Linked DNA regions of Homo sapiens: regions 1, 2, 3, 5 and 6 are each linked to region 4. Evidence: fine-mapped expression QTL. A gene starts in region 4. Each other region holds a variant in brackets. All regions are shown on one strand. Distances are between the middles of the regions.

Region 1 (5,308 bases), 70 kb after region 4:
AAAGTTGAAAAGCAGGACAAAGAGAAACCTGAGAAAGACAAGGAAATTAGTCCTAGTGTTACCAAGAAAAATACCAACAAGAAAACCAAGTAAGTTTCTGGTTAACTAAGTACAGGATATTACTTTGCAAGTGAATTCAAGATATCTTCTAAATGCCTGTTTTTTTTGTTTGTTTGTTTGTTTTGTATCTCCCTCATTTAGACCAAAGTCTGACATTCTGAAAGATCCTCCTAGTGAAGCAAACAGCATACAGTCTGCAAATGCTACAACAAAGACCAGCGAAACAAATCACACCTCAAGGTACTTGGAAACTAGAATGACATACTAAATCACTGCTCTGATTTACTTAATCGTAATCATGAATCCAGGGTGGTTTTGTGCCTTGGGTTTGTAGGCTAAGAAGGTGAAGAGCTAAGTATGGGTGGGGCTGGTGACTTTTTCTCTTTTTTAAATACTGTGGCCAGAACAGGAAACAGATAATAGTAATTTTACATTGGTCCCAAGCTTTGCTATCCGTGCTTGTTGGATTATTGCTAAAACTGAGTAGCACACTCTGTAGTCGGCTTTGGCATGTGTGGTAGGCAGTTCGGATTCATTGCCACAGTGTCATGAAGTCTTGTGCGTATTGATGATATTCTGCCAGAAGCTGTTTTTGATCCATAACTTACTTAATTGGCTCTTCCCCTGTGGTGTTGCTTCTAGGCCCCGGCTGAAAAACGTGGACAGGAGCACTGCACAGCAGTTGGCAGTAACTGTGGGCAACGTCACCGTCATTATCACAGACTTTAAGGAAAAGACTCGCTCCTCATCGACATCCTCATCCACAGTGACCTCCAGTGCAGGGTCAGAACAGCAGAACCAGAGCAGCTCGGGGTCAGAGAGCACAGACAAGGGCTCCTCCCGTTCCTCCACGCCAAAGGGCGACATGTCAGCAGTCAATGATGAATCTTTCTGAAATTGCACATGGAATTGTGAAAACTATGAATCAGGGTATGAAATTCAAAACCTCCACCTGCCCATGCTGCTTGCATCCCTGGAGAATCTTCTGTGGACATCGACCTCTTAGTGATGCTGCCAGGATAATTTCTGCTTGCCATGGGCATCTGGCCACCAAGGAATTTCGCACCCTGACGATTACTCTTGACACTTTTATGTATTCCATTGTTTTATATGATTTTCCTAACAATCATTTATAATTGGATGTGCTCCTGAATCTACTTTTTATAAAAAAAAAAAAATCTGCTGTGCACAATTTTCCATGTACATTACAACTGGTTTTTTGTTTTTGTTTTGTTGCCGGTGGGGAGGGCTGGGAGGGGGAGGGAACTTTTATTTATTGTGTTCACAAACTCCATCCTTTCAGCATATCCTTTTAAGTTTAGTTCTTTCTTCCAGTTATACTATGTACTATCAGTTTTGATATAACTATATATATATAAATATAAAATTATATATAAAGGGTTATTTGAAACCAATCCATGGCAACGCTGGTGCTTGATACACTGTGAAGTGAATACAACATTGAACAGTTACAGATCTGGGACAGTCCCTTCTATGAAAGTGCTGAAATTTAATTAAAATCAGTCTTATATGAAGTATGTTCCAATCCATGTGGGAACTTGACTCTCTCATCTGTCTAAAGAGTACTGGACGATATAAAAATATATATTTTTTAAACAATGTGATCTCAAATTTAAAGACTGCTCCAGATAGCCTGCATTTGCAATGGAATAACTGACAAATCACAAGTGGTTTAGTTGGGCAGGGCTTTGATCATTCAAAAGTAACTAAAGTAGCTCCAGAATGCCAAGTATTCGTGTAAATTACGGTTACATGTTATCATTTGCTGTTCTTACATAAGCACTCATGAAAATATGGTATTCTGTAACTTGAATTCCATCCATTTTCCAGACCTCTACTCATGTCTGAGGTAAATCTAGAAATTGTCTTAGTTTTAGGATTGAAACAGTCTATAAACTGTATTTTTGGTCCATCCAGGAAGCTAGTCCCTTGTTTCTCCTTTCTACATGACATTGCAGTGGTGGTTTCTGTAATTAAAATTTGTTTGCCTCATGTCCCTTTGTCTGATAAACCTTCACTCTACCGATTCAGTTGTGAGCATTCTTTTTTTCCTTCTCAAAACCTACTATGATTTGTTTTACTGAACAAAGGTTATCAACCACACATCCAGTCCTGACATGGAGCTTTTCAGTGTTTGGAGACATTTCTCAATCCCCTGCTGTGGTAGGAACTCCAGTGGTGAACGGCTTGCGCGCCTGCAGCCAGAGTTGCAGGGAAAGCTCGTACTTACTGCGAGCAGCATGTAATCTTTTTTCTTCCTGGACATAAAGATAGCTTGAGTAAACTGTTCTATTTCATTCTCTTCACTCTTTTTACTGTCTTGCAAAAAAAAAAA[A/T]AAAAAAAATAATCAAAGACCACTAATAAGATTCCACCTCTCCTTATTAAAATAATTTTTTAAAATTTTGTTTTGCTTTTGTTTGGATGTGGGGTCTCTCTTCTATTTGACTTTTACATTTAGATACAGAGTTTGTAGTACTTCAGAGACATTTCAAGCATGAGAATTTGAGGTTACCTCTCTTTATTTGACCTTTAGGGACTCACGGGAGGGCAGCCTGATTTGTAATGAAGCACCACATTTTGGTGTTAAAAACCTGGTTTGCTTAATAATAGCAGTAATTTCTGTCTGTGGAGGCAACAAATAAAAAAATTAACAGCTTGAATTGAGTAGCCAACAGGAAAGGTTCCTTTCACATTTACATTAAAACTATTCTGTAGTCACTAATGTACCATAATTTAAATTCTTTTCTCAAAGGTATAGATTATAAAGCAGTGCCATTTGTTGCTGTGGTCCTATTCTCAAATGCATGGACAATGTTCCCCCCTTTTTAAAATAATGCTTGTGTCTGGGATGCAAGCTTTGCTTATCTTTTTAAATACATTTTTAAAGTATTTATTAATGAACCAAAGGAAATCAGATGCTTTCTATAAGCATCAGAATATATAATACATAGTGATTTGACTATGAATTTTAAATCCACATTTTAATATTGGTGGGATATTGCAAAGACATTCCTTCTAAAGTTTTAATATTCCTTTTATTAAGGGTCTCAGGGAGGGTAAATTAGTCAGCCATATTTATTTTCCAGAGGTTTAAGAAATTGCTGTTTTTAACTTTTTGAAAAAACTTAAATGCCACCAAACTCATGTAGGTTGCACTGCTTATTGAACCAATAACTGTTGGTATGCACTTTGTTCAGACACACTGTGTACTTTTTCAAAAACTAGTTTCATGTAAAGTGATTGGACCCCATAGATTAGTGGAAAAAGCTGATTAACCAGCTACTCATAGGCTGCTAATTCATTCATGCCAATGTTTTGGTTTTTCAGTTTTGCCTCCGTGATAAATTAAAGAATGGGGAGGGGTGAAGGAAGGGGAAGAAGATTGCTTTAGAACAAGTGGCATGAAATTACCATCTTTGTAGAAACCGCAGCTAACAGTGGGAGTTATCTAAGCAATCAGATGTTACAGGGCCAGCCCTTTAGCTGCTGTGGTGTATTCTGTTGGGTAGTGAGGTAGTAGGTACTTTATAGACTTTTAATTTTGGAAATTGATGACATCCCTCAGGCATGTATTCTGGAAATGGAATTCCTGTAACTTCCTGTGTCTGCAGTATGCCCTACAATTAGTAGGCAGCGTGTAAAAACACTAGTGTAGATTATAAAGATATACATTAAAAGAGGACCAGAAATACTTGGTATTCAGTGGCACAGAAAGCAGGTTAAACAAACAAAAAGCACAGTGTTACGCTTGCAAGTTTCCATTTGTTTTAATACCACGCAATCTTTCACACTCGTGCGTGTGCGCGCACACAGAGCTTACCTGACTTGCTCTGCTTGAGTCATGCAGTTACAAAAAAAAAGACATCTTGACACCCACACAATATTCTAATCAAAACCTTTCAGTTTCAATCTGGATATTTAAAAACATTGGCAGAAGCTTCTGTGAGTTTAGTTCCACTAAGATGTTTCACCTGCCTTATCAAGACCATTCTCAGTCTACTTTTTTAAGCTACCGTATCTTAAATTATTGAAAATTTATTAATTGCTGAATATATAATAACCTTTGCTTGTATGTAACCGAAAATGGTTTAAGAGCCAACATTTAGAGTATGACAATGGAGCTGAACAGTTTTTAATGCGCAAGCAGTTCTGTTCTTGTGTATGACTTGTAACCTTAATTTACTGTGTAAAGATGGTTACATTATTTCCTTAGCTTTGTTTGTTGGAGACAAATAGAGAATGCTTGTTAAGTATGTCAAAACAATCTTATCTTGTGAATTTTTGTTAATGTATTATACGAGCTATATTTTTCATTTGCCCAGAAAGACAGCTTGTATAACGCTTTTGGAAGTTTCTGCTCTGTAATGTCTTTAGAGCTGACAGTCTGTTAGGTTTGTTTTTTTCTTCATGCTAAAGTGTCAGTTGGTGGTTTTGTGAACTGGTCAAAAATTCACAGGTCTTAAATGTTTTGGGGGAAATTTATATTGGACACTGCTCTTTGTCTAGCAAATAAAAGATGTTAATATATTCCTGTTACTGGCATGTGCACGACTATGTTATTAGAAGCCACTTTATCATTTTCCTGCTTTAAATAGAAATGTCTATTTATGAATTCTGCTTGTAGTTTTTTCACAAATAAAATAGTAAAATTTACATTGGAAATCTTTATTTTTGTGTGTATAGATTTTAGCCTTTAGAATAATAGTTAATTTTTAATCTGTGGAATATTTCCAATGTGAATAGGAAGCTCACTTTGTATTTTAGAACTTGTTTATCAGAAGCTGAAATAGCTGGGTATCTTAAGTACATACCTCAAAGATGCAAAAGGAGACATAATGGGGCAAAAGAATCACCAAAATTTGAAAGAAAATGAACTGTCTCCTAAGTGTAACCTTTGAGATAGATTGCAATGATGTAAAGGAAGGAAATGGGATTTAAGGAAAGAAAATGGAGATGATGCTAAAATATGCTAATTGAGGACTGAAAATCCTCAAAAGACAACCCCTGTTTCTGGCCAACTGGATTTAGGTCAACTATGTCTCAGAGATGTGAATAAAGTGTGTTACTAACCTAAAAGCCACACAAGCTCACTTATTGCCCCATGCGAGGGAGACTCCTGCCTGCTGCTGCAGGTGCTGAGGCATACCAGTCTATAACCTTCCAAAGAATTAAGAAACCACTTAAAACATGTCAAGATCCATCCCCGATTATTTTGTCCTGGGTCTGC
Region 2 (5,308 bases), 100 kb after region 4:
TGGCACGCCCAGAATTCAAACCCTGGCCTTTGCCTCCATGCTGCTTCTGCCCTCAACTCCCTCCCTGGGAGCACTGCCCCACGTGGGGGTCACAATCAGGGGACATACCAACCAAGGAAATTTTTTTTTTTTTGGAGACAGGGTCTTGCTCTGTTGCCAGGCTGGAGTGCAGTGGCATGAACATGGCTCACTGCAGCCTTGACCTCCTAGGTTCAAGTGACCCTCCCACCTTGACCTCCCAAAGTGCTGGGATTACAGGCATGAGCCATCATGACTGGCCCCAAGGAATATTTTTAATCTTCATAGCTATAGACAAGTCAGCAGCTATTCCCAGCCCCTTCTGCACGAGAATGCAAGCTCCACAAGGACGGGGTTTTTTTGTCTGCTTCATCCCTACTGTGTTTCCAGAGCCTTAAATACTGCCCCATTCACAGTCAGTGCTTCATAAATGTTTCGTTGACAGAATAAGAGGATGGAGTGAATGAATGCATGCGGTGCTGCTTCTCCCTCTGATAAGTGACATAAAGTTCTATTTGTAAATATTTTATATGGCTTTTTTTTTTGACATAGAGTCTCGCTCTGTTGCTCAGGCTGGAGTGTAGTGGCGCGACCTTGGCTCACTGCAACCTCAGCCTCCTGGGTTCAAGTGATTCTCGTGCCTCAGCCTCCTGAGTAGCAGGGATTACACTCAACAAATATTCATAGCCCCCACACCAGGCTAATTTTTTTAATTTTAGTAGAGGCTGCGTTTCACTATGTTGGCCAGGCTGGTCTCAAACTCCTGGCCTCAAGTGATCCGCTCATCTCGGCCTCCTAAAATGCTGGGATTACAGACATGAACCATGGCTCCCAGCCTGTAAATACATTTGAGTAAGAAAAAGTTAAGTCAGTTAGAAGGCAAATGCTAAGGGAAGAGCAGCAGGGTGGTGAGTGGAAGTAGAAACAGCAGTCAGGTGGGGCCGGGATGCTGGGATTTAGGCAATGTCGGGTGACTCAGCTCTGCTGTTCCTTCCAGCAGAAAATTCTGTGGTTCTCAGAAGCATGCTCTTCATGGGCTGAAGCAAGAGGTGAGTTCGCTCTTCCCCTGTGTATTCGTTTCCTGTAGCTGTCATAACAAATTAACTACAAACTGGTGGCTTACAACAACAGAAAAGTATTCTTTTACAGTTCTGGAGGCCGGAAGTCTGACCAAGTTGTCAGCAGGGCCACGCTCCCTTCGAAGGCGCTGGGGGAGAATGCTTCCCAGCCTCTTCCAGATTCTGGCTCCAGGCTTTCCATGGCTGTGGCCCCATCACTCCAATATATCTGCCTCTGTTTTCACATGGCCTTCTCCTCTGTGTTGGTATCTTCACCTCTTCCCTTTCTTAAAAGGATGCTTGTCATTGGATTTAAGACCCACACAGGTAATCTAAGATGATCTCATCTTGAGATCCTTAATTTAATTACATCTGCAAATACCTTTTTTCAAATGTAATCAGGTCACATTCACAGGCTTCAGGGGTTAGGACTTACACATGTCTTTTTGGTGGCCACCGTTCAACCCACTATACCTGGATCTGGTCCCTATTCGGCACCAATCCCTGTTCTGCAGTGCTGCCCTCTCCAGGGAAGCCTCGCTATGTCCTGAGGCCCCTTGGGGGATGAGGACTGGGGGCATCTTTGACGGGGCCCGGGTGTGGAGCAGCAAGAGTCTTTCTGGGGAAGCGGCTTGCTCCCAGGCAGCCATTGTGGGGGCCTGTTTGCTCTGGTCATCCATTTCTGAAGAAGGAGGAAAGGGGCTGAACTGGGAGGATTTGGTCCTCAGGGAATTTGTTGAGGGCGGAGGCCTGCTTATCCACCTCTTTGGAGTTATCTAGTTCCTCCGTAGACTTTGATGAATATTGCTTTCTGAATGCAGTGCGGGGAAGAAAGAGAGGAGAGGAGGGTCTGCATCAGGCATGTGACTTGGGAGTCCCATAGCCTGGATGCCAGTGCTGCATTCACTTGGCAGATATTCATAGATCACCTACTATGTGATAGAGCAGCAGGAACACAGCGCCAGGAGCTTGCAGCCCAGAGAGATTAGACAGATAAAACAATGACAAAAACTGTGATCACTGCTAGAAAGGAAATAGACTGGGTGTGGGGATGG[A/G]GAGTGTCAGGCAAAGCCTCTCAGAGGAAGTGGTATTTGAGCTGAGACCTAGAGCTGGAGGAAAAGCATTCCAGACAGAGGGAGCAGCATGCACAAAGGCCCTGAGGTTAGAAAGAGCCCAGCTCATAAATGGAAAAATGTCCAGTGCTGGAATGTACTCAGTGGGGGTGAGAGTGGGAGAGGTACTGAATCCTACTGGCCTCCTGGGCTGTGGGAAGGAATTTGGATTTTATTCAAAAGATTTTAAACACGTTGTGCCATGACTTGAGTCAGCATTTTTAAAGATCCCTTTGGGGACCGGCAGAGAATAAATTCTAGGGCAGTGGTCAGAAACCTTTCTCTCTAAAGGTGCAGATGGAAAATATTTTTGGCTTTTGGCCGGGCACTGTGGATCATGCCTGTAATACCCGCACTTTGGGAGGCCAAGGCGGGTGGATCACTTGAGCTCACGAGTTTGAGACTAGCCTGGGCAACCTGCATTTTTTGTCTCTAAAAAAATACAAAAATAAGCCAGACGTGGTGGTGAGTGCCTGTAGTCCCAGCTGCTCAGGAGGCTAAGGTGGGAGGATGGCTTGAGCCTTGGAAGCGAAGGTTGCAGTGAGCTGAGATCATGCCACTGCACTCCAGCCTGAGTGATAGAGCCAGACCTTGTCTCAATTAAAAAAGAAAGAAAGAAAATATTTTTGGCTTTGGGGGCCATATAGTCTCTGCGGTAACTACTCTGCTGTTGTAGCCCCAAAGCAGCCAGAGGTAATACATGAGCAACCAGGCATGGCTGTGTGCCAATAAAACTTTATAAAAACAGGCAGTGGCTGGCCTGGCCTGCGGGGCTGTGCTTTGCTGACCTCTGTTGTAAAGTGGAAATGAGAAGAGTCTTGTGGTCCAGGGCAAGTGACTTAACTCTGTGCCTCAGTTTTCTCATCTGTAGAACAGGCACATCTTACCTCATAGAGATGTTGTGAAATTTCTGAGTGTTAATAGAAATAAAGTTCTGAGCGCGGAGCCCTGGCCCGTAGTAGGTGGTCGACTCTCAGTGGCCATAACAACACTAGTGGCTGCACTAATTATTATTACATCCAGCTGGGATGATCATCACAATTATAAAGCAAAGACTTGGAGTGAGTATAGTTCACCAATGCTGGTCATTGTAGTACTTCAGTGGTGGGTTGGAATGTCTGTGTATGGAGTTGAATGAATCCTACAGTGACATGAATTAGAGCTTCCTCCTTGGGTGTGCCAACATATCTTCCTCAAATCTTGCTCAAAGGCAAGATTTGTCCTGAAACTTTATTCTTCAATGTAGCGTCTGCCACATCCTGTCTGCCAGCCCAAGTGGCCCTCCTGTCATCCTGTCCCCCTTTGGGGAATATCTTTCCAGCTGCAGCAGCTGCCCTAGGCTGTTCCTCTGGGTTGCATATGAGGTTTAATTAATCTTTGTTTACACCTTCTTCTTGCTTTTTTTCCTCTCCCAACACGGGGGGGTTTCAAGACTTCTCTTTCCAGTAACTTGGTAGGAAGGAAACTATAGAGAAGGATAAGGTTCAGTTTTTCTCAAAAATCTCACCTGGGGAAGGAAGAGGTAGGTACAGAAGAGAGACGTGGGTGGGGAAAATGTGGGTAGGTGTATGGGGGAGTCTAAGAGACCACATTTGTCTACATGTTCTGGCTGATTTAGAGGGCACAGCTCAGGCTGAAAGGCAGGAAGGGTAACCTGGGGCCTTTTCCTCACCTCTGTGTCCTCAGGGTCACTGTTATGTTCCCTGACCTCTGAGACCAGGTGCATCAGGGGAGGTGGGAGAGGCCTAGTCCTAAGGCATTTCTGGGTGGGACCGATCACAAAACCAAGAGGGACAGAGGCAAGAGGGATGGGCACAGAAGCAGGGAATGAGGCTAGGACTTTCGAGTAGAAAAATGGGGGTTCCTAAAGTTCACTGTCTCCTAAGCCTGCTCTCCCAGAGCAAAGACCTCCATGGTACAGTTTGGGAAGAAGGGGAACCTTGTTCAGAATTCTGTGTTCTTCCAGTTGAATATCCCACGGTTGGGTAAACGTTGTGAGTCTAGGAACTGCTACAAAATAGAAACAGACAGATAAGATAGATAGATGGGTGGGTGGATGGATGGATGGATGGGCAGAAGAATGGATAGACAGACAGAGAGATAGAAGATGGATGGATGGATGGCTAGACATATGATAGATGAATAGGTGAATAGATACATATAGAGCAGATCTTCTCTGTGCAATCAAGTGAGAGTCATTCATCATTTATTAACAAAGATTTCATGAGCACCAACTATGTGCCAACTATGTGTCTAGTACTGATTAGACAATGCCAAGTGAAACAGGTGGGCTCTCTGCTCTCGCAGTGCCCTCAGTCTCTTGTAAAATCTAATGCTCTGGGCCAAGAGAAACTATTACGATTTCTCTCAGTGTTATTTCTTAGTGTGAGTCACAGAGGAGCCCACATCCTCCACCAGGAGAAGGCAGAGGGAAGGGCCTGAAGGCCTGGTACCCACATAAGTAAATTTTAAGAGGCTGACAGGCGTCATTGAGCCAAACCATTAAGGCTTTGGAGTCAGGCCTACCTGGGTTCAAATCCCTGGTTTTGCCACTTTATAATTTGTGACCTTGGACAAGTCACATCCCCTCTCTGAGTTTCAGTAGCCCCATTTGTTCACTCATTATTTATTTTGAGTTCTTGCTAGATACTAGATACTGATTTAGGTGCTGAGGAGGCTGTAGTCAACAAGATAGATAAAGTCCCAGTCTTTCTGCAGTTTATAATATACCTGTGGGGAGACAGAAAATAAATAAAAACATCAATTTCTAATACACCAGTTCGTGATGAGTGGATGGAGAAAAGTCAAGCATGGGGCGAGGGGTTTCATATGAGCAGCTCCCTGACGGAGGCGAAGAAATGAGCCATGTGTATGTCTCGGGGAAAAGCATTTCGGGTGGAGGGAACAGCACACACAAAGGCCCTGAGGCAGGGGGCACTTTGCAGATGTGATTAAGCTCAGGATCTTGAGAAGAGACGATCGTCCAGGGGGGATCACGAAGGTCCTTCTAAGAAGGAGGCAGGAGACTGGAGGGACAGAAGGCAATGTGACAAGGGAAGCAAGAGGTTGGAGGGATCCGAGGAAGGGACCATGAGCCTGGGAACACAGGCAGCCTCCAGA
Region 3 (5,308 bases), 37 kb after region 4:
GCTCTGCTGCAAGATTATTCCCATCAGAGAATTAGTTGTGCCTTTTTGGAAGGTATCTCTTTTATTTTGTATTTTACACAGTTATGTGGAGATTGATGTAACATATGAAGCACCTGCTTCATGCAGACATTAACTTAACACAATGTTTTTCCAGCATAGTTGATGCACAGAAGTGCTAATATGGAAAATAAGGACGGTGTTTTAATAAGCATGTTATAATCTTTTAAACATACATTATCTTGGAGCTTGCCTGAAATGGATTTTGAGTGTTTTCAAGTCTTCTCTGGTGATGATAGGTACTACTGAGTTAACCACAGTCTTTTGGTTAGGCTACAGTTAGTTAGCAAAGAGCTACATGTAGCTATGTAGGTAGTCTGATTTTGTCCTCTTATCAAGCATAGCCTAATAAACTGAATGGATTGCCCAAGCTGATTTGGATGTTTTCCCTCAGTTACAAATCAGGAAGCATGTTTTGCAGGCTGTTGAAGAAATGTGGATAACAGGTGACTGGACTTGATTTCCTTCTTTAATTCTTCCCCAAGCATAACAAGTTTTGCCCTCATTAGCTGCATTTTCACTGTGTGGTTTAATTAGGTTTTCCTTACAAGATTCAGCACTAATTATGCTTTTTGCTTTTCTGTTTTTGAAGAGTATTCTTTGACACTTTTGTTTATTAGTGTCTTTGGGAGTGGGGAGGGAGGGCATTTGGGGAAGGAATGCTGATATGACTGGGAGACTTGTGCTACTACCTCAGCTCTAGGCTGCTCTACTTCATGTGGGCATAAAATGTGTATAAAAAGTTAAACCTGCTAACAAATAATGGAATCTCATTTGGTGCAATATAAAGGTAGTATCTCTTGTCTCTTATTCTCATCATTAGTATAGCTGCGAAAGAGGATTGTTTGGAACCCTTCTGAATCTTTCGAGTCTGATAAGAATAAACCAACTTTACTGTTCACCTCCCTGCAGATCGTGGCTGTTAGCACATCTAAGGTGCATCTGTAGTTCTTGTCACTGATGAAATGGCTTCATGGGATATGGGGGATCCTTTTTTTTCTTTTTTTAAACATTGGTTTCCATAGATAAACATTGAGATGGCTTCTTGTAACAGATTTATGAATTGGCTGACTCATCCTTAATCTTTGCTATTTGTTTGTTTACAATTTGTTCTCTGGGCTAAAGTTGATTTCTCTTTCTCCTTATATGTGTGTAAAATGTCCTTAGGTTTGTACTCTGAGATGTCTGTATGGTTTATAATATACTTTAAAATTTCTAAATAGCTTAGAGTAAAAGATAAGTAATTATTTGATAAGGCTTAACAGTTAAATTATTTGCACATTTTTATAGATTGTGGAAAATAGCGTACCTTACTTCTTTTGTAACCACAGTGAAAGTTCCTTACTGTTTACTAGCTTTCAGATAAGAGCACAAACCTCAGATAGAGTTCTGTGTGTTCAGTATTTGGGTAACTGCAAAGAGTTCTTATACCCATCAGCCTTTCTTAACCAGCTCTGAGAGAATTAGCCCTCCTGCTCCAAGACTTCCATTGTAGACAGTTACCTTTTCCCCTATGCATTCAAAATGGTACTAGTTGTAATAGATAGTTGGAAGAATTGAGAAAATAATCACTCATGTCATTTTTTGGGTGTTCTGTGGTTCAGACTGAGAAAGGCCATGGACCTAGAGAGTACACTGTGATATTATTTCTCATTCAGATTTACAAATGTAAAACAAAACTGCCTGCAGAGTTGTTCTTAGTACTTTAAGACATAACCTGGCATATGCTTTTGGCTTTTCAGTAACCCAAATAGTTAGTGAACCGCCTGTAGTCCTTTCTTTCACAGGCAGTAATGTGCTTTGGCTGCTCAAATTATTTGGAATTCCTGTACTTTTTATTTGTCTCTCACCTTACATAGGTTTTCTTCTCTGTTAGGGATGTTCCCTTTGTTCACCTAGTTCACTGAACTTGAAGAGTCACTTCCTTTGTGTAGCCCTTAGTCAACTGCCAGCACAAGGTTGGTATTCCCTCTTTTGTGCCGCAGTACCTGCACTTAAAATCATTATCTATCACATTTAAAAACAATATTTTACAGAATTGCCTCACCATTCCTATCTCTATCCATCCCTGGAGGGCAGGGACTGTTAGGTTTGTCAACACCTAATGTATGTTGGTTGAATGTTGAATGAGTTGTTGATACACGTTTGCTGTATAAGGTAGGCATTTTACAGTAAAGTTTTGCAGTATTAATAATGGCAGTGGCCGGGCACGACGGCTCATGTCTGTAATCCCAGCACTTTAGAAGGCTGAGGCAGGCGGATCACCTGAGTTCTGGAGTTCAAGACCAGCCTGGCATACATGTTGGTGAAACCCCGTCTCTACTAAAAATACAAAAAAAGTAGCCAGTTGTGGTGGCGGGTTCCTGTAGTCCCAGCAACTCAGGAGGCTGAGGCAGGAGAATCGCTTAAACCCGGGAGGTGGAGGTTGCAGTGAGCCAAGATGATGCCACTGCACTCCAGCCTAGGTGACAGGGGGAGAGTCCGTCTCAAAAAGCAACAAAAAACAAAAACCCAGAACGAAACATTCAAAGGGCACCAAACAGCGGAACACAAAGGTGAAGCTGGTTTTCCTTCTTTTGGAAACAGTTACTTGTTTTTGTTTTAATTATTTACTGAAGGATTTAGTCAGACTTTTAAGTTTGTTCTGTTACATTGAACATTGGTCATACTGTGAAGAAGGGTCACAATTGATAATGCTTATTACCTATTTTTAAAAGATCAACTGATGAATGAGTAGTGGC[A/GCA]GTGTATTGTGAAAGCTCTGAATTTGCAGAGGAAAGTAACAGTTGAATTTTCTTGAAAGTAAAACTAAGAACTGTGTGTAGTAATTTAACTTCCCACGTCAGTGAGTAATTTAACCATATTAACCACCCAAAGAAGTAATGAAAATAAAGCTTTTATTCAAATATTTGGCTGTACACATTATATCTGTTTTACATTTCAAAGCTACATTTATTGAATGGACAACACTTTTTTCTCTCACACTTCTTTACCTTCTGTAGAACAGATAGAGCGAGTCACTTAAGTTTTTAATTCCTACCTGCAAACCTTCTTCGTAATTACATTTATTTCTGAAATGCCTTACAGCATCTTGTCAGCTTCCTCCCCTCAGCCCCAGAGATTTAAATCAGGTAGATTCTTACGATATCAAGAAGTGTTCAGCTTCTTCTATAGAAAGTCATGATTTATTGCAACATACTGCTATAACTGCTTTGCCAGTTCATCCACTGTGAATCCACTGACTGTACTCTCTAGTGTGCATCTTAGTACATTTTGTGTTGCTGTAACAATACCTGAGACTGGATAATTTATAAAGAAAAGAATTTTATTTGGCTCATGATTCTGAGGTTGGAGAGTCCAACATTGGGCAGCCCCTTTGGTTGCGGGTCTTGTGCTCGCTCCTTCAGTTCATGGCAGAAAATGGAAGGAAGCCAGCATGTGCAAGAAGGAACAACCCACTCTTCGAGTAATGAATCCAATCCTGTGAGAGCAAGAACTCACTCCCACAAGATGGCATAGTCTATTTATTAGGTATCCCTCCCATGACCTAAACACCTCTGACTAGGCCCCACCCTCTAACACCGGCACATTGGAAATCAGATTTCAACATGAGTTTTGGTGGAGACAGACCACATCCAGACTATAGGCACATGCATCAAATATTTTTGCTTTGTATGCTCTGAATGTTTTTTGGTGTTCATAGGTTTAGCTCATAATCTCCAAAAGGGAAATTGTAATAACTTCTAACTTGCAATTGAACTCAAACCAGTATAAACAGGGTTATTACTTTAAAAAAAAGTTTTAGGAAGAAGTGGTAGTTTAGTATTTTAAGCTGTATCAATTGGATGAAATAAAGTGGAGGAAATGGTTTAGAAGTATTAAATTGCTGAGTTTATAGAAATAACTTATATGTACTGCATGAAAAGGAATGTATTTGAAAAAGATGCCTGATGTACGATAAAGCAATTTAGCATTATTTCAGCGCAGAGATTGATTTATAAGTTAATACTTTAATATAAAGTCATACCATTGCTTTAATGGTGATGGTGGAGCAGAACACATTTCTAAGAATTTACTGTTGTTAAAACAAAGATTTCTATTGGAAGACATATGTAAGTCATCCTTTTTTTCAAAGTGTAACTGTGTTTGGGAAGGAAATAAATATATGAATAAAATGTGTTTTAAATTATGTCATCAAAAGGTGGGATGTAATGTTCTTCGCAGATTTAAAGAAGCATTTCATGTATATTTGAACTTAGAAGTTTTGGAGACTGAAGGCATTTGCTAAGCATTGTTTTTCTGTTCATTCATTTAAGGCTCCGTATGGCATCTGTGTCAGGCTGACAAATTCACGTGTTACAGAGTTCAGTCAAGAGGCCAGGTGTGCAACTGTTAGCTAACAGGTGGTATAAGCGTTAAGATGCCCAATAACCTGTTCTCACATCTGTCTCTGTATACCGTGGTCAGTGAAGACTGTACAAGTGTAGCTGTGGAAAGTTTATGGACAGTAAGTGGGATAGGTGTTGAAAGACACTTCTGGCATTGATGGGAGACTGTTTCGGTGGAAAGTGACTTCAAACAATAGTGCCAGGATGGTGTAATTTACATTTGGCCCAGATTCACCTTAGTTCTTTGAGAGAACTAATTTTTCTCATTGTGGCAATTGTAATTGGCCCTCGGAATGGATCTGTTTTTAAAATAGTGAAGTGAACATTACATTGCATTTTTTACTTTTGAGATAAATTTTGGTAAACAAGTCTTGATTTTTTTCATGCGTAAAACTGCCTGCTTAATGGTTAAAGTCTCCTTATGCTTTAATGTAAACGTTTGTTATCAAAGATGTGCAACAGCCTGATAGCAAAAACAGATGCACAGATAAGCTCAAGTAACCAGTGAAATCTAAAACTATTCATAAGGTGAGTTTAGTTTTGAATTATTATATACACTAACCTGTGTATATAACCAGTATTGGGGGCAGAGTCCTATTGGTACAGATAATTAACACTGGCTATCAATTTTCCTATATAACAAAGCACAGGCTTTTTATCCAAGGTGTCTCTATTTGTATTTAGGCAATTTTAATAGCTAAGGAGTTGACCTATACGTGACTTGCATTTGAATTCTTAACTGTAATATGCCAGTAACTTTAGTAGTTTTGAATGCAGCTCCTCTCTTCGAGCCTCTTGGGACACTGCGTCTGTCCTTGTCTGTCAGATTCTCAAAAACTTTACCTGGGACACACACAAGTAAACCT
Region 4 (5,308 bases):
CGAGTAGCTGGGATTACAGGCGCCCATCACCACGCCCGGCTATTTTTTTTTTATTTTTAGTAGAGACAGGGTTTCACCATGTTGGCCAGGCTGGTCTCGAACTCCTGACCTCAGGTGATCCACCCACTCGGCCTCCCAAACTGCTGGGATTACAGGTGTGAGCCACCGTGCCTGGCCCTTCTTAAACACATTTTTAAAAACTTTTTCTTTTTTGAAAAGATAACACAAGACAAAGATACAAAACGACATACTAAAACAGTCAACCTCCTATGGATAAATTACAGTGTATTTGCAATGGAATTCTACACACTTAAGCAAACAAAAATGAACTATTGATGTAGGCAACAACGTGGATGGATATCACAAATATGCTGAGCGAAAGGTGCCAGCCAGACACAAGAGTACAGACCATATGACCCCTGCATATGACCTTAAAGAACAGGCAAAACTAATCTTTGGTGACAGAAGTCGGAATTGTGGTTACCTAAGTGAGGGATGACTCATTGGGAGGATAAAATGTTTTATTGTTCTAATGGTGGAAAGAGGGGTGTAGATGTATGCACTAAGCTGCAGTGTGAAAATTTGTGTATTTTATTCTATGTATAGAATAATAACAAAGTCTCCTTTCCACTACTATGGCTCCCAGCTACCTCCCCGGAGGCCACTCTTCCAGTGAGGATTTCTTAGTGCCCCGTTTCTGTCACGACCTTCATGCCAGGGGCAGAGTCCTGGGAGCATGCCAGGGAGACACCAGAGGCCAAGGCTGCTCCATGGCGCAGCTGCACTGGGCCATGGCTTGTGTACGTACCCTTTGGCTTTCTACGGCCCTTTTACCCCTAGAACGCTATCCCTCTCTCTTCCTCTTCCTTCTTTCATCCCTCCCCTAAGGAGGCAGCTGTGGCATTGAGGCCTTGAGAGGTTGCTGACCCTTGCTAAACAGTGTTGCTTCTCCTGGCCCTCCTGGGTGCGCCTGCCTGGAGAGGACACTGCGTGCTGATCAAACTTATTGTTGACACATTCATTCTCTCTTTTATTCTCTCCCTTCTGATCCCTGGACTGATCTCTAGGAATTTCTGCTCCCTGGGTGCTCAGTCTCAGTGAGCTTCCCTGGTGGCAAGCCCTGATATGCTTCCCTTCCATGGGGCAGTCCTGATAACAACCTATTTTATATTTGCATATAAACCTGGCTGAGGGTCTGTCTTAACTCCAATCCCCCCACCCCCGGGCCCCAACTCCTAGCAGCATTCTAAGACTCCGTCCCTCCCCTAACCTGGGGCTTCAGCACAGCCGCGTCTGTGTCTTTTATCATCTGGGGTCGTCCTCCTACCAGATCTCCCTGCCTGAGGACAGAGGGTCCTGAGTCACGTTCAAGTCAATTTGGCAAGCGTTTTTGGAGCAGGGCAGAAAGTGAAGGGCACTACCCTGTTCCTCGACTTCAAAAATCGAACGCGGGGGAAATGGTGCACAATTCAGGCCCAGTTATAATAGCTCCTAATACCCAATATCTTGTTTTGGTCCTTCGTGAATACCAGGCATCCATCAGCGAACCTTCCATGCCTGATTTCTCCGAATATTCAAAACAACCCTGGGAGGATGAGCCCCATTTTGGAGATGAAGGAGCTGAGGCACGAGGTTTTAATGCGGGCATGTGGTCGCCAGAATTTGAATAGCAACTTCCCTAAGGAAACGCCCTATTTAGACTCTAGGGGAGAGGAGGATCCCAGGAGGAGTCCGCCAGCAGAAGCTCAGAGTCTGGCCTGGGGGCATTTAGTTATGCCACGCCCTTTCTCTACTGTTCCCTCCCGCGACAGGGGCCTGACAGGGAGTGGGGCTTCGGGCCAGCGTCTCGGCCGGACGCAGGGACTTCAGAAGAGGCAAATACAAAGCTCCGCATGGCAGAGGAACAGAGGGGCGCGGGGGAACGCGGTCCAAAGGTGGACCTTGTCGGCCCCTGGGCACTGCAAGCCTCGAGGCGCTGCGAGCGGTGAGGCTGTTGCAAGCTCCCGCGGCGCGCGCAAACTGCGTGGAACTACTTCCCCGGGGCGGCTTCGGGGCCGGGGTCCCGGCAACAGCCTCACGGGGCGCCGTGCGGGGCCCGAAGCCAGTTGCCAGCTCCCGGGCGCGGCCACGTGCGCCCCGCCGGGCTTGCACGCTCCGCCGCGCCGGGCCGCGGGGCCACCGACAGGCACGCGCGCCCCCAGCGCGCACACACTCCCGGGCACGCACACCGACCGCCCGGCCCACGTCCGCCACGCCCCGCCTTCCCCCGCGCCCCGCCTCCGCCCTCGCGGCGCCGGCCGCCGCCCTCCCATTGGCCGCACGGCGCGTGACGCGCGGCGCCAGGCCCCGCCCCTCGTCAGTCACTCGGCGGAGGCGGCGCTGGCGGGGACTAGTCTCGTCCGGAGACTGTGATGGATTTAACCAGGTGGGGAGGGAGGGAGGGCGCGAGCTTGGGAGTGGAGAGGGAAGGAGCCGGCCCACTCCCCGTCGCCGGCCTCGGGCTGCCCCTGCGCGCCCCCTCCAGATCCGGCCCGCGGCTCCCCTCCCGGCCCCCCCAGCCCCACGCTCAAGTCCACAAGTCCGCCCGCTTCCTGCGCCCGCCGCGGCCCTTCCCGGGGCGCCGCCGCCACCGCCTGGTGTGCGAGGCTATCCGGCCCGGGCCCGGGGCTTGCAGGGTGCCAGTGGGGGCGCCCGGTTCCCTTCCTCGCTCTCTCTTCCAGTCCCCGGAAAGGGTGGGTGGGTGGTCTCCCGAGCGAAGTTTCCAGCACTGGATTCCTGCGAAATTACGACGGCTCACCCGCGTCTGTGTTTTGCTGTCTCTCCCCCGTTTTCCTGCTCCCTGCCTCTTCCCTCCCTTTTCCCCCACTCTCCACTCCTCGGAAGGCCAAAAAGACAAGCGAAACCTGCCGCAGACGAAGGGTTTTGGGATTGTAGCGTCTGCACCTTCAGAAACAGTGCTGAAGCCTTTAAATGCAGCATCTGCGATGTGAGGAAAGGCACCTCCACCAGGTACTTGAAGATCTGTGTTACCTTTTGTTAAAGGACTTTTTTTTTTTTTTTTTAAGTGAGAGGGTAGTGAGCCTTACTTTCTGCCCTTTTTCCAACTTGTTGATTACGGCTTTTTTTGTATTTGCGGGTGGGTTGTGTGTGTTTTTGGGTTGAGTGTATTAAGTGTTGGGTGAAAAGCCTTGTGTTCGCTAAATGATTTATGGGAGGGAATTTTTCCAGGTTTTCATTTTATTTCAAACGGACACTGGATTTATTTGACACTTGTGTCTATTGGCTTATTGGTATTGGCTGGGGAAGAGAGGAAGCAGTACTATCGCTATGGATTGTAGGACATAGATGTTTTATATTTTTGCCATGTGTAGAATGGTTTTAATTTGCCTGTCCCGAGTTACTTTTCTCTTGTCTGAGAAATTTAGTGGGGGTAGTAAGGCTGGCTGTGCTTTTCCTGTCTTGAGCTGCAAATGTCTGTTACTTTCTTGCACTTGAAAATAAATGTCGGTATTTGATAAAGTAAGTGCATTTTGTGGGAGACTGAGCTGTCAGTTTTTTTTTTCTTTGACTAGCTTATGTGGGGTGGTGATGGGGGACGATTTTGTAAAATGGTGAAATGAGCAGTGACTGTGGAAGTTTGTGTTTAAAGCTCTGTGATGATGAAAAGAATGTTGAAAGAATTCCTTTTCATTTTGATGAAGGTCGTAAACTGCATGTGATGTTAAAACGAGTTAACTACTTTAGATTTAACATTCATAAATACTTGGATAAAATGTCAAGACTCATGTAGTCTTTTGGTCATCTTTTAATTTATGTCTGAATTTGTTTCATTGGCGTTAGAGTTTGAAGTTAAACTGTTCTTGGTGTCATTTAATGAACAGGCATTGGGTGTGTGTGTGAGACAAGAATGAGTTTTTGGTGGATCCTTTAGAACATTACAGTTGATTGCCAAAAGTCTCATTTTATCAGGTACTTATTTTTGAATTGGTGACATTTCAGTGTGACTGTGTAGTAGTACTTCACAGTTCCAACTGGATATTGTTCTTTGATTAGATGAATATGTCATGTTAAGGTTTCATTGGTTTATTTATACTTGGGATTAAATAGGATTATTGGGCAACCTAAAATAATCTAACTCTGAGATTAATTGGCCTAATTATTGTTTCTGTGAATTGCACTCTTTAAATGATGATACCTTTGAATAAAAATAATCAAAAACTAAAAATATTACTCCATACGTTGTTTTAAGAAATTTTTGTCGGTGTTTTGTATTATCATGGAATATATCTAAAGTAAAAAACACGCATCAGTAGTTTCATAGATTTTGTTTTGCTGTCTAAAATAGGGAATTCCATCAAATGGCATGAAAGTTTTTAGAAATGTATTTGTTATTTAAAGCAGTAGTGATTGTATATTATTTATGAGTAATGTTTTTTACATGTAGAAGCCCTCAGAGGCCAAACCTCTTTATTGTGGTTTTGCTTTGAGTGTTACCGTAGATGGTGTTCAAGTAAATGATTAGGAAACTCCTAAGAACTTGAGAACATTACTGGTGAAGAGAAACGTAAACCAAATTCAAAAGTTTATGTCTGATTTATCGCTGGGAATGATTATCTCATAATGAAGTGCATTTCAGCTTTTAACATGTATTTTAAAAAACCTTACTCATCAATTTTTCGGAAGCACATGGAAGGTGTTGACTTTTAAAAAAGGTATGTATGTATGTTTAAAGTTTTTTCAGAGCCGCAGATGACTGTTGAAACTTAGTTAAAACTACTGAATTATTTACAGTGAAAATATTTTAGAGTCTATTCAGGAACAGGGAAAGGCGTCTACTTTAAGGGTCTTCGAGTAATTTTCTGATGTCATTTAATAGAATTTGAATACAGATTTAACAGGTGTGAGGACTGAAAACTGTGTGCATTCATGACACTCTTAGCTGGCCACAGTTGGTTTCATTTTGGTTATTGTCAATATTTTGGTGTTTTAGATCTATTCAGAAGTCATCGTTGGTTGGAATGCAAATAACGTTTTGGTTTTCCTACATTATGAACAGGTTTTATGTGGAGAAGTGAGTTTGACAGGTTTTCATCCTATCCTGTCTTGTGTGTTAACTGTTGGTTAATCCCTTTGTGATACTGGTTACTGCCATGTTTTTTTCTTGGCCCTCTTGTATTTTTTTTGTACCTCAAAAGTTTGAGTATGAACTTGACATTTTCTATCTTGTGTAGTTTTAATCAGACTTGGTATAGATTGATGGCAGTAGAAAACTTGTGTTTTGGATGCTGGGTAATAGGCAATATTTGTG
Region 5 (5,308 bases), 64 kb before region 4:
TATTTGTTTATTTGAGACAGCATCTCACTCGCACAGGCGGGAGTGCAGTGGCACAATCACATCTCACTGCAACCTGGACCTTGCAGGCTCAGGTAATCCTCCTGCCTCAGCCCCCTGAGTAGCTGGGTCCACAGGCATGTGCCACCATGCCCAGGTAATTTTTTGTAGAGATGGGGTTTTACCATATTGCCTAGGCTGGTCTTGAACTCCTGGGCTCAAGCCATCTGCTCACCTCAGCCTCCCAAAATGCTGGGATCACAGGCCTGAGCCACTGCATCCTGCCAGTTTGACTATTAACATAACAAGTATAGTGGATATTAGCTAGGCTTTGTGGCCACCTAGCAACTAGGACACCTTTCCAATATCTGTAGAATTTCTCTTCTTATGGGTCTGAACGTGCTTAAGCCAGAAACTCACTTAATGAGCTTCCCTTGTAACTAGGTGTATTAATCAGAGTTCTCCAGAGAAACAGAACCAATAGGATGTGTAGATAGAGAGAGGGAGAAATTTGTTTTAAGAAATTGGCCCACGCAATTACGGAGATCAGGAAGGAGAAAATGTTACGGTTCAAGTCCAAAGGCAGTCTTCTGGCAGAATTCCCTCTTGCTTGGAGGAGATCAGGTTTTGTTCAGTTATGGCCTCCAATTGGTTGGATGAGGCCTACCCACATTAGGGAGGGCAGTCTGCTTTACTCAAAGTACACTGATTTAAATGTTGATCTCCTTCAAAAACACCCTCACAAAAACATCCAGAATAATGGTTGACCAAATACCTGGGCACAATGACGCAGCCAAGTTGACACATAAAATGAACCATTGTACCAGGGAACAGATATATGACCAAATTCTTGTACAGGCTTTGGTTTAGAAGTAAGTGCCATGCGGAGTTCATTCTTTACAAGTGGTGGTGGTGGAGACATCCAGCTCACGGAAGCAAAATGGCAGCACTCTGTCACTAGAATATAGGGGGTCTGTGCCCAGCAATGGCAGCAGAAGGGTCTCCACTGGAAGAGTCATGGCTTTGTAGCTCCAAGCCTCATCCTTTAGTTCTCCCAGGAACTCAGTGAACTACGTAGATCCTTTAACACATTCCTTGTCTACTTAAACTAACTAGGGCAGATTCCGTTATTTGCAGCTAAGAACACTGAAATTCAATTAGCACTTTGTATTATCTATCATTGCATAACAAATGACCCCAGAACTTAATGACTTAAAATAATAATAAATATTTATCATGTCATTTTCTGTAAGTCAAGAATTTGGGATGAGCTTAGCTGGGTGGCCCGGCTCAGGGTCTCTCATGAGGTTGCACTCAGGGCTGCAATCATCTCAATGCTTGCCTGGGGCTGAAAGATCCCCCCCACACCCTGCTTTTTTTTTTTTTTTTTTTTGAGATGGAGTCTCAGTTTGTCGCCCAGGCTGGACTGCAGTGGCGAGATCTCAGTTCACCGCAACCTCTGCCTCCCAGGTTCAAGCGATTCCCCTGCCTCAGCCTCCTGAGTAGCTGAGATTACAAGCGCCACTACACCTGGCTAATTTTTGTATTTTTAGTAGGGACAGGGTCTCGCCATGTTGGCCAAGCTGGTCTCGAGCTCCTGACCTCAAATGATCTATCCACCTCCGCTTCCCAAAGTGCTGGGACTACCAGGCATGAGCCACTGTGCCTGGCCAGTTGGAGAATCCACTTTTAAGATGTTTTATTTATGACCAGCCAGCTGGTAAGGCAGGAGGCCTCAGTTCCTCTCATATGGGCTTCTCCATAGGGCTGCCTGAGTGTCTTAACAACACGGACACTGTCTTCCCCCAGAAAGAGTGATTCAAGAGAGAAAAATGGATGTCGCGATGCTTCTTATGACCTTATCTGTGCAAAATCACTTCCACTTCATTCCTGTTGTAACAAGAAAGTCACTGAGTCTAGCTCTTATTCAAAGGGAAGGAAATTCGTTTTCTACTTTTTGCAGGGAGGAATGTCAAGGGATTTGTGGCCCTTAGTGATCCCCAAGATGGCCCCTAGTGGTCCCCTTCTCCTGATAGACACACCTTTGTTTATTTC[C/G]CCCCTGTGCTGTATCACAGTTGGTCTGTGTGGCCAATGGCCTATAGAGAAGTGATGGTATGCCCCTCCAAAATTAAGTCATAAAAAGCTGCAACTTCTCTCTCTCTTTCCTGTCTCTGACCCTGTCCATCTGTGTGTCTGTCTGTTGGTCAGTCTATCTGTTTCTCCTCTCTGAGGGAAGCAAGCAACCATGTATAAGTACCTTATATAGTAGCTCATGCGGGAAGGAACTAAAGCTTCAGGCTAAGAGCCAGCAGGAAACTGAGGCCAGCCAATAAACACATGAGTGGTTTTGGAGGCAGCTCCTCCAGCCCCAGTTGAACGTTGCTAAGGCTGCAGCCTTGGCGGACAGTTTGGCTGCACCCTCATGAGAGCTCAGGAGACCTTACCACGCAGGTAAACTGCACCTGCATTCATGACCGTCAGAGCCTGTTTGAGATAATCAACATTTGTTACTTTGCATTGCTAAGTTTTGGGGTAAACTGTTACACAGAAATAGATAAATAATATAGCACCACACAGGTATTCCTTTTTTTTTTTTTTTTTTTTCAGAAGAAATCAAGCTGTGTGTATGCGCATGTGTGTGTATGTGAGTGTGTGTGTGTGCCCTGAGAAGGGAATGAGAGAATAAGATACAGATCTACCTAAGTCACCAACGGGAGACATGACCATCTTTCAGTTGTCATGGAGCAGTACTTTGCAGCTTTATGAATTTTCACTAAGTATCTAGAAATCCTCAACCAAATCTTAAATTGAAATTGTTCTTTTTTAAGGCTCCATGCTGCTGCCTACCAAGTTGTAAACTGCTACCATCTAGAAGGTGTCAAGCAAGGCCTGGAAAACCCCATAGGCAGGAGGGCTGGTTTGGGCATTAGGCTCTCGTGTCTGTTTAGGGACACTGTGTTTCAAAACTAGTAATGATTTGGTTTTTTGAATTCCTGTTAGCCTTATTACTTTAGAATGTCTGTAGTTGCAGACTATAGCTTGTGGGTTATTCAATCATGTTTTTAGCTGTAATTGCAAAAACAATTGTGCAAATCTATATTTTATCAGTTACCCAAAATAGCACAACATCCCTTTGCACAGTAAATGTTTGCTGAGCACCTACTGGGTGCCAGCACTGTCCTAGGCACTGGCACACTGGCTTTGAATGTCCCCAGCACTGCGAGAAGACAGCAGACACTATTATTGCAGTAGAAATGCAATTACAGGAAAACTAAAGCCCTCCTTCTCCACCTGGGGAAAAGCCAGCTGTCTGTCTCCTGAGGAGACCTGCTTGTGCATTCACCCAGGTCCAGGCTCTGGCCATAAACTTTTCAGGCTTAAGAATCCTGATTTGACAGCACACCAGGAACAGGTCTATGCCTGAGGGAAAATCCATTAACCATGCTCACGAGACTGTTGTATAAATCAGAAGGTCAGTTTCCTAAATTACAATGAAAATTCTATCCCAGCGACCTGAACACTCATGTTTGTATGACCAACCCCAACCTTCCTCCCTCCCATCCTCCATTGTCCCCAGCCTCTCCTCTTTATTTTCTTCCTTCCATTCTTGCTGCAACAAATACTTAGTAAGCATGTCTTATGAGCTTGGCACAGGGCTGAGTGCCGGAGGAACAATGGTGTCTGAGACAGAGTTCCTGCCCTCAGTTGGAGGGTGGAAGGAAGCCCTAATTAAAACATTCACACAGATAAATGCTGGGTCTCTTTTCTAAACTTTCATTGTCTCTGAGACTCTAACAAACATGGGGGACCTCGTCCTTAATAATGTGCATTCTCACATATACCCAACATTGCACACACAATTTCAGGAGTTCTCAGTCACCCTAAAACCCGTCCAGGCATATGGGGTATTGGCAGACCTACACGGGAAGGAGCCAAGTCATAACCAGAAGGTTGCTTCGAGATCGTGGAGTTGCAACAAGGGCATTGTGTAGGTGATTGACTGTTCAAGGACAATAGGCTAAGAGCTCCTTCAACATAGAAGGCCTTGTAGAAATGGTCTTCCCACTTGAGATATTCCATCCACTGGAGGCCTCCCCTCACCTGGACCAGTGCCCGAATGGAGTCGTGCCAACAATAACCTCTGCTCTGTCTCAGTGAACAAGGCTGACCAAACCCCATTTTGTTGACTAGTCAGTCTCTCTTGAGATAGGCCATCACCTTGATCCACTGAGAGTCACATGCGTCTCACCTTGGAGTGATGCAGTGACCTTCAGAGGACTTTGCATGTCTCAGCTCTGAGCCATCACAAATAGACGTAAAGCTTAACTTTGGTGGAGAGCCGTAGCTTCCTTACTTAAAGTTCTTGTAAGGTGTCTCATTCTGGCCCCTAGCAACTCTTAGCTGGATTTTCCTAGAGCATCCAGAAAACAATAAAAGACAGACAGACACCCAGCTGATCACAAACCCTCTCCAGCCCACATTTCTCCTCTCCACAACCTAGAGCAAGGGTTGGCAAACCGATTCTGTAAAGGACCACATAGTAAATATTTTAGCTGTCTTTTGAAACTACTTAACTCTGTTGTTATAGTGCAGAAAGCAGCATAGGTAATAAATACATACATGAATGAGTGTGGCTGTGTTCCAATAAAACCTTATTTACCAAACACAGTGGACTGGGCCGGAATGGGGCTGGGGACTGTGGTTTGCCAACCTTGGTCTGGAAGATTCTCCTCCTCCTGATGGATTCTCCCCAGTCCCCTGTTCTTCTCTGCTCTCCCTCGGTGATCTTTTTGAAGGATTCATTTCCACTGTATTTCTGAGGATTTAGACAGTCCTTCTTCTGAGGAACCAGCAAATGGAAGATTGCTTTAAGCTGGAAAAGATTAGATGTCCTGGGTGTTCAATCCTTCTTCCTGGTTTGCACAGTGTGGAGAAATGGATAGGAAAGAGACATCATCTAAACATGGGAAAACTTTTTCACAAGGTTAAGAGCACTTACTCTTAAGTCAGATAATAATAACAGTATTCTGAGCCAGATGGATGGTAAAAGAAAATAATAATAATAATAACAGCAATAAGAGCAACAACATAAATAACATTTATCGAACATTCGCCATGTGCTAAGCATTCTCCTGTTTTTGTATACTTTGTATTAGATGCTGGGTTTGTTTTCCTCTGCCACTATCTAGCTATGGGATGTCATCTAACCCCTCTAAGCCTCAGTTTCTCCTTCTGTTAGACAAGGGGTGTGGGGTCACTTGTAAAAAGCTCTTTTTTTGAGACGGAGTCTCGCCCTGTCGCCCAGGCTGGA
Region 6 (5,308 bases), 110 kb after region 4:
CTACCTGGAGGCAGTTGGCCAGGAAAGTCAGTCAGTCTGCCCTTGTCTCACAGTCAGACTCCGAGACACAGCCAGGGCCACACAGTGAGGCATGGCCACGCACACCGTGAGTCCCAGGCACGGTCAGCTGGTCTGTTGGCCAGCCTCAAGCAGTCAGCCAGTTGGCACACTGGGCCAGTCAGGGAGTTAGCTGTTGTCTCACAGCCAGACTTGCCTATACGAGTCAGGGCCACCCAGTCAACGCCCACTCACATCAGGAGTTGCAGTCACAGCTGGTCAGTCAGACACCCAGCCAATCTCAGTCAGTTGGTCAGTCAATTAGTCATTGTCTCTTGGTCAGATTGTGTTACACAGTCAGACATGGCCGCTCACACAGTGAGTCACAGCCGTGGTCAGCAGGTCTCCTGCTGCCTGGTCAAACTCGATCTGTCAGCCCATCAATCAGTCAGTCAAGGCAGGGTTAGCCAGTCAGCCAGGAGTCATCAGTCACCCACATAGCCAATCAGATTCAGCCACCCAGTCAACACATTCAAGTCAGTCAATCCACAGGTTATTGTCTCACAGCCAGACTCAGTTACATTGTCACAGCCATCCAGTCAGACAAAGCCACTCACCACGAGTCACCCAGCTGTCTCTTGGCTGGCCTGTTCATCTCAGTCAGTCTCTGGCAGTTGAGTCAGCCAGAGTCAGTTTTCCATGACTAAGGCAGGTGGTCAGTCCACCCGGTCTGTCCTGTGAGTTGGGTGTAGTCAGTTTCATGGTTAGTCACAGGTAGCCGTAGGCTGTGCCACAGCCACAATGAAACACCAGGCAACCAGCCAGTCAGTTGATCTCAAAATGTCAGGCATGCAATCAAGGCGGTCAGTCAAGACGCAGGGGTCACAGTCAGACCCACGGTTACCAAGTCAGTCTGGAAGAGACAGCCAATCCCAGAGCCGGCTAGTCAGTCAGTCAAGATCATCACTGACGGCTATCAGTTAGGAGATCATAGTCATCCAGACATCCAGTCAGTCTGAATCAGCCTGCCAGTCACACTGACTCAGTTATTCCCTCAGTCAGCCAGGCAGGCAGTCACAATAGTCAGTCATAGTAAGCTGCCTAGTTATCCAGTCAGTTTGAATTAAACAACCAACCAGTCAACCATACACCAAACCCATTGTCATCAACTGGCCAGTCAGTCCATCATGCATGTGGTCAATGAGTTGGTCTCCTTGTCAACCTGTCTCCTCACCAGTCATGTTCAATCCACTGAATCCATCAGCCCAGTTGCAGTTGGCCCAGTCATAGTCACAAGCTCCCACAGTCCATGGCCTGGTCAGTCCAGATCACAGCCAGCCAGCTACAGTGAAACCCACAGTGACCATCAGTCAGTCAGTCAGTCAGTCAGTCAGTCAGTCAATCAATCATCTAACCTTGTCAACACCAAGGCCCTGACTGACTTCTTACAGTATCACATGAATCACTAGCGATCACTGACAGAAACCCTAGATCAAACCGAAAGCATGCCTTGACCCTCTTCAGCAATGTCCAGAATAAGTGGTCCCCAGTCAGCCAGCTACTCCTATTCATCAGGAAGGATAGGGGCAGGGGGAGGCAATTAAGTTGACATATGAGTTCAGGGGAACCCACTTGTCAGCCAGAGAGGCCATGGGGCTGACGGCCATGGAGAGAGGGCAGAAGACCCTTGGGACAGTTTTCCAGTCCACCACCTGGATGCCCCATGAGGGTTTTCTCAGAGCAGGGACCCCCAGTGCCCTTTCCAACACCCCTGCTGTCCCCAGGTAGGGGAGAGTGAGAGTATGAGATACCCCTGCAATCGCTGGCCTCCTCCTTTTGCCTCCCTCGCTTCCCCCTTCCTTTTCCTCCCTCTCCTCTTGCTCCTCCACTTCCTCGTCACTTCCGCCTTGCTCTACATAGGTGAACCTAACCCACCCACACTCAGATCCTGTCCTGGTGTTCCACAGTGCCAGTCCCTCCCCCCCACACACACACCACACAATCACAAACACTCCCACCACACACATACACACACCAGTCACAAACCACCACACATACCACACACATACCCACACACCACACACGTACACCCACACACCACATATACACACATACACACCCACACACATCACACACATACAGACCCACACCCACCACACATACACACACACCACACATACACAAACACTCCCCGCCACACACCAGACACCGTGTGCATGTGCACATACCACATGCATATACACACCCACACACACCACATACATCACATATGCCACACGTCACACACAGACACCACACTCACACATAGCCCTCGCACACCACACCCTCCCACGTGCACGTGCACTTACAACACAGGGCACACACACCACACATGCACACATGCATATACCACATGCACGTATGCACACCACGCACACACACACATACGCTACACAGACACGCACACACGCCCTGCTTCTTGGCTAGCCTCCTCGTTTTGGAACATCCTGTTCCAGGCAGCCTGGGAGAAGGCGCTCAGACACTCCTTGGGCCGGCCCCTCCCCCTCTGCTCCCAGGGTTTCCGCCTCCTGTCGCCGCCCTTGCTGGGGTAGGGGG[C/G]GGCCTCCTGGCATAAGCCCGAGCACAGTGTCCTCCTGGGTGTGGACTCTTTCTGCAGGAACTCCTCCTTCCAGCTCCTCTGGAGGAGAGGGATGAGCGGGGGAAGGCTGGGGACGGGAGGTGTCTTGCTCACTTCATTTCTCTGCCTGGGGGCCCCCCCCGCCGGCTTCCCTGGAGTCAAGCAGGGCTCCCCAGGCAATTCCGTTACCTGGGTGAACACTGGCAGGAGTCCAGCTCAGAGAAGCAGCTGGGAGTTCTAAGCCCGAGGGGAGAGCTGTTCATCTCAGGCTGACTGGGGCTGCTTTCTGCTCGAGCGGGCCACACTCTAGGCAGAGGTGCTCTCTGGACCTCTTTCTGGCACCTGGACTCCACCACTTACTAGCCTTGTGATCACATTGGGCACATTAATTGGGGTTTAGGAGCCTCAGCTTCCTCTTCTTTAAAATAGAGAGGATAACAGAGCCCACCTGCTTGGGTCTGGGTAATGATGAAACGAAGAACACGTGGAGAGGGCTCAGGGCAGCATCTGGTAGCTCCTGTGACTGCCGACTTGGGGCTCATTTGTTCCCACCAGGCAATTTGGTGGCCAGGCCACAGGGGGTTCTAGAAGCTTCTTTCCATGCCCCTTCTCTCACCTGGCTCCATGACCCCCTGCCCTATTGCAGCTTCCAGTCACCGAGGGCTCCTAAGTGCCCAATACCACGCTGGGTGCTCTGTTGACATTATCACCCTGCACCCTCACAGTAGCCCCATGATGTCGGTGCCCGTACTATACCCATTTTACAGAGGAATAAACTGAGGTTCTGGGAGTTAGAGTAATATGCCCAAAGCTGCAGGTAGTGAGTGGAAGAGCCAGAACTGGCTGACTTCCTGAGGCCCATAGGGTGGCATGGTACCTGCCCTGGTACTGAAAGCCACATGTGCATCTTTGGGGCCTTTGGGGAGGGTGGGGAGGTGTTTTCCATGCCCCAGTTATCCCAGGTTCCCAGCTTCTGCTCTATCTTGTACTGGTTACCTGACATGTTTGTTGACAACATTCATTGACTTTGCATTGGTGAAGAGTTGAGTGGATGTTGGTGGAAGCACAGGCACTCCAGAAGCTGGGGTGGGTGGGTGGAGGCACTCCTCAGACTAGGGAGGCCCCAGGGACACTTCCAAAGCTCTGGTTTGGCTGAGGAATTCATATCTGAAAGGAATGTATGAGAAGGCTTTGGGAAACACAGAGAAGCTATCTTTTATGGGCGTAGGGGAGGCCGCAGAAGAACAGCATCCAAATCTCCACATCATGTGGACCTTGCTGTCGATAACAGCAATCTTAATGACAATCTCTACAGGCCCTGGGCTCCTTAGGAGGTAGGAGGAGGGTGTCTTTATCCAGAAACCCTTTCTATTAACAGTAACAACATAAGGATTCCACCCAGTGCCTCTGGGGCTGGTGGCGAGAGGACTCCAGCTTGGGGCCACCCCCTAGGAGAGATTCCTGTGAGCAGCCCTCGAGGGCCTCGCAGTGATGCCCCCCAGCCTTCCAGCTTTCCCTCAACCCGCAGGTGGCTCTGCGAAGGCGTCTCTTTATTTGGAATTGCACTTGGCAGTGATGACACTTTTTGAAGGGCTGCAGGGTGGAAGTCGGCAGCAGAAGCCCTTAATTCCCAGACCCGAGGGGGCTTTGCAAAGACAGCTCCTCTCCTGCTGAGCACAAACCCACCATTTCTCTCACTTCCAGGCTCCAAGGAGGAGGGCCAGGCCACAGTGTGAAATGCTCTTAGAGGACACCCGCTGGGGTGACAAGGCTCAGAAGAAAAAGGCAGATGGCTCCCCACTGCCCTCGGATGACATCCAAACGGCCTGCCTGCTGAATTAACAAAGGCCATCCTCATCCTGCCTCCGGGCACTGCTCCAGCCCAGGCCTTTGCCACGCACACCATTCCAGCTACTGCCTGCGAGCTTCTCAGTCCTTACAGCAGGACTCCCGGAACCCCAAGCTGCCCCCTCTACAGAGAATATGCTTCCCTCCCATCATCTCTCAGCTAACTCCTATGCATCCTTCAGGACTTAGGCGTCACTTCCTCCAAGAAGCCTTCCCAGAATGCCTCTCCCCTAGCGTCTAGTAGCCTCAGGCGTTCTTTAGCTTGTACATTGCATTCTCCTGGTGTCTTCTCACTGTCTTCCTCTGTGCATGTCTGTCTCTGTCCATTTCCCCTTTGTATAAGGACACCAGTTATATTGGATTAGGGCCCATTCTAATCATTTTATGTTAACTCGATTACTTCCGTAAGAGCCTATCTCCAAATAAGGTCACATTCTGAGGTTCTGGAGTTTAGGAGTTCAACACATCTTTGAGAGAAAGAGCACAATTAAACCAGAACACTTGCTTCGTGACCTTAACTTCTAAGCTAAGTGTATTTCCTTAACTTCTCTGAGCCCTGCTTTTCTGTCTGTTAAATAGGGATTGTGAAAGGGAGAATTACCCCAGGATGCTGGGGACTTTGGCTCAAGACTGGGTTCCACTGAGCGGCTGTGTGACCTTGGGCAGCCCCTTATCCTCTCTGAATCAGTTATCTACTGCTGCAAACAGACCACCTCCAAGCTCAGTGGCTTACAACAACATCATATATTTTGTTCATAAATCTGCAATTTGGGCAGGGCATGGAGAGGAGGGCTTTTCTCAGTTCCCATGTGACAGAAGCTGAGGCAGCTCCACTGGGTTGGAGGATAC

What was found. PIP is the estimated chance that this variant, and not a neighbour inherited with it, causes the effect.
Region 1: its variant is fine-mapped to the expression of RYBP in B cells (Fairfax 2012, PIP 0.95). The same link has a PIP of 0.9 or more in CD4 T cells, CD8 T cells, monocytes, monocytes after LPS, monocytes after interferon gamma and neutrophils.
Region 2: its variant is fine-mapped to the expression of RYBP in T cells (TOPMed, PIP above 0.99). The same link has a PIP of 0.9 or more in CD4 T cells, blood mononuclear cells, naive CD4 T cells and whole blood.
Region 3: its variant is fine-mapped to the expression of RYBP in whole blood (INTERVAL, PIP 0.97).
Region 5: its variant is fine-mapped to the expression of RYBP in esophagus mucosa (GTEx, PIP 0.97).
Region 6: its variant is fine-mapped to the expression of RYBP in unexposed skin (GTEx, PIP above 0.99). The same link has a PIP of 0.9 or more in sun-exposed skin.

What each region holds. Positions count from the first base shown.
Region 1 is chr3:72,374,032-72,379,339 of GRCh38, reverse strand. It overlaps RYBP (RING1 and YY1 binding protein), which reads left to right. Exons shown (of 4, transcript NM_012234.7): 2 at 1-89; 3 at 202-300; 4 at 703-4,743. The coding sequence ends at 955. Among named protein-coding and RNA genes, the nearest start is that of RYBP, 70 kb to the left of the region's middle. The variant A/T (reference allele first, on the strand shown) is at 2,417.
Region 2 is chr3:72,342,525-72,347,832 of GRCh38, reverse strand. No RefSeq gene overlaps it. Among named protein-coding and RNA genes, the nearest start is that of RYBP, 100 kb to the left of the region's middle. The variant A/G (reference allele first, on the strand shown) is at 2,132.
Region 3 is chr3:72,407,119-72,412,426 of GRCh38, reverse strand. The region is part of intron 1 of RYBP (RING1 and YY1 binding protein); the gene reads left to right. Among named protein-coding and RNA genes, the nearest start is that of RYBP, 37 kb to the left of the region's middle. The variant A/GCA (reference allele first, on the strand shown) is at 2,799.
Region 4 is chr3:72,444,197-72,449,504 of GRCh38, reverse strand. It overlaps RYBP (RING1 and YY1 binding protein), which reads left to right and starts at 2,882. Exons shown (of 4, transcript NM_012234.7): 1 at 2,882-3,009. The coding sequence starts at 2,882. RefSeq lists silencers at 2,036-2,445, 2,506-2,565.
Region 5 is chr3:72,508,521-72,513,828 of GRCh38, reverse strand. No RefSeq gene overlaps it. Among named protein-coding and RNA genes, the nearest start is that of RYBP, 65 kb to the right of the region's middle. The variant C/G (reference allele first, on the strand shown) is at 2,053.
Region 6 is chr3:72,334,374-72,339,681 of GRCh38, reverse strand. No RefSeq gene overlaps it. Among named protein-coding and RNA genes, the nearest start is that of RYBP, 110 kb to the left of the region's middle. RefSeq lists a silencer at 172-281 and an enhancer at 4,173-4,739. The variant C/G (reference allele first, on the strand shown) is at 2,593.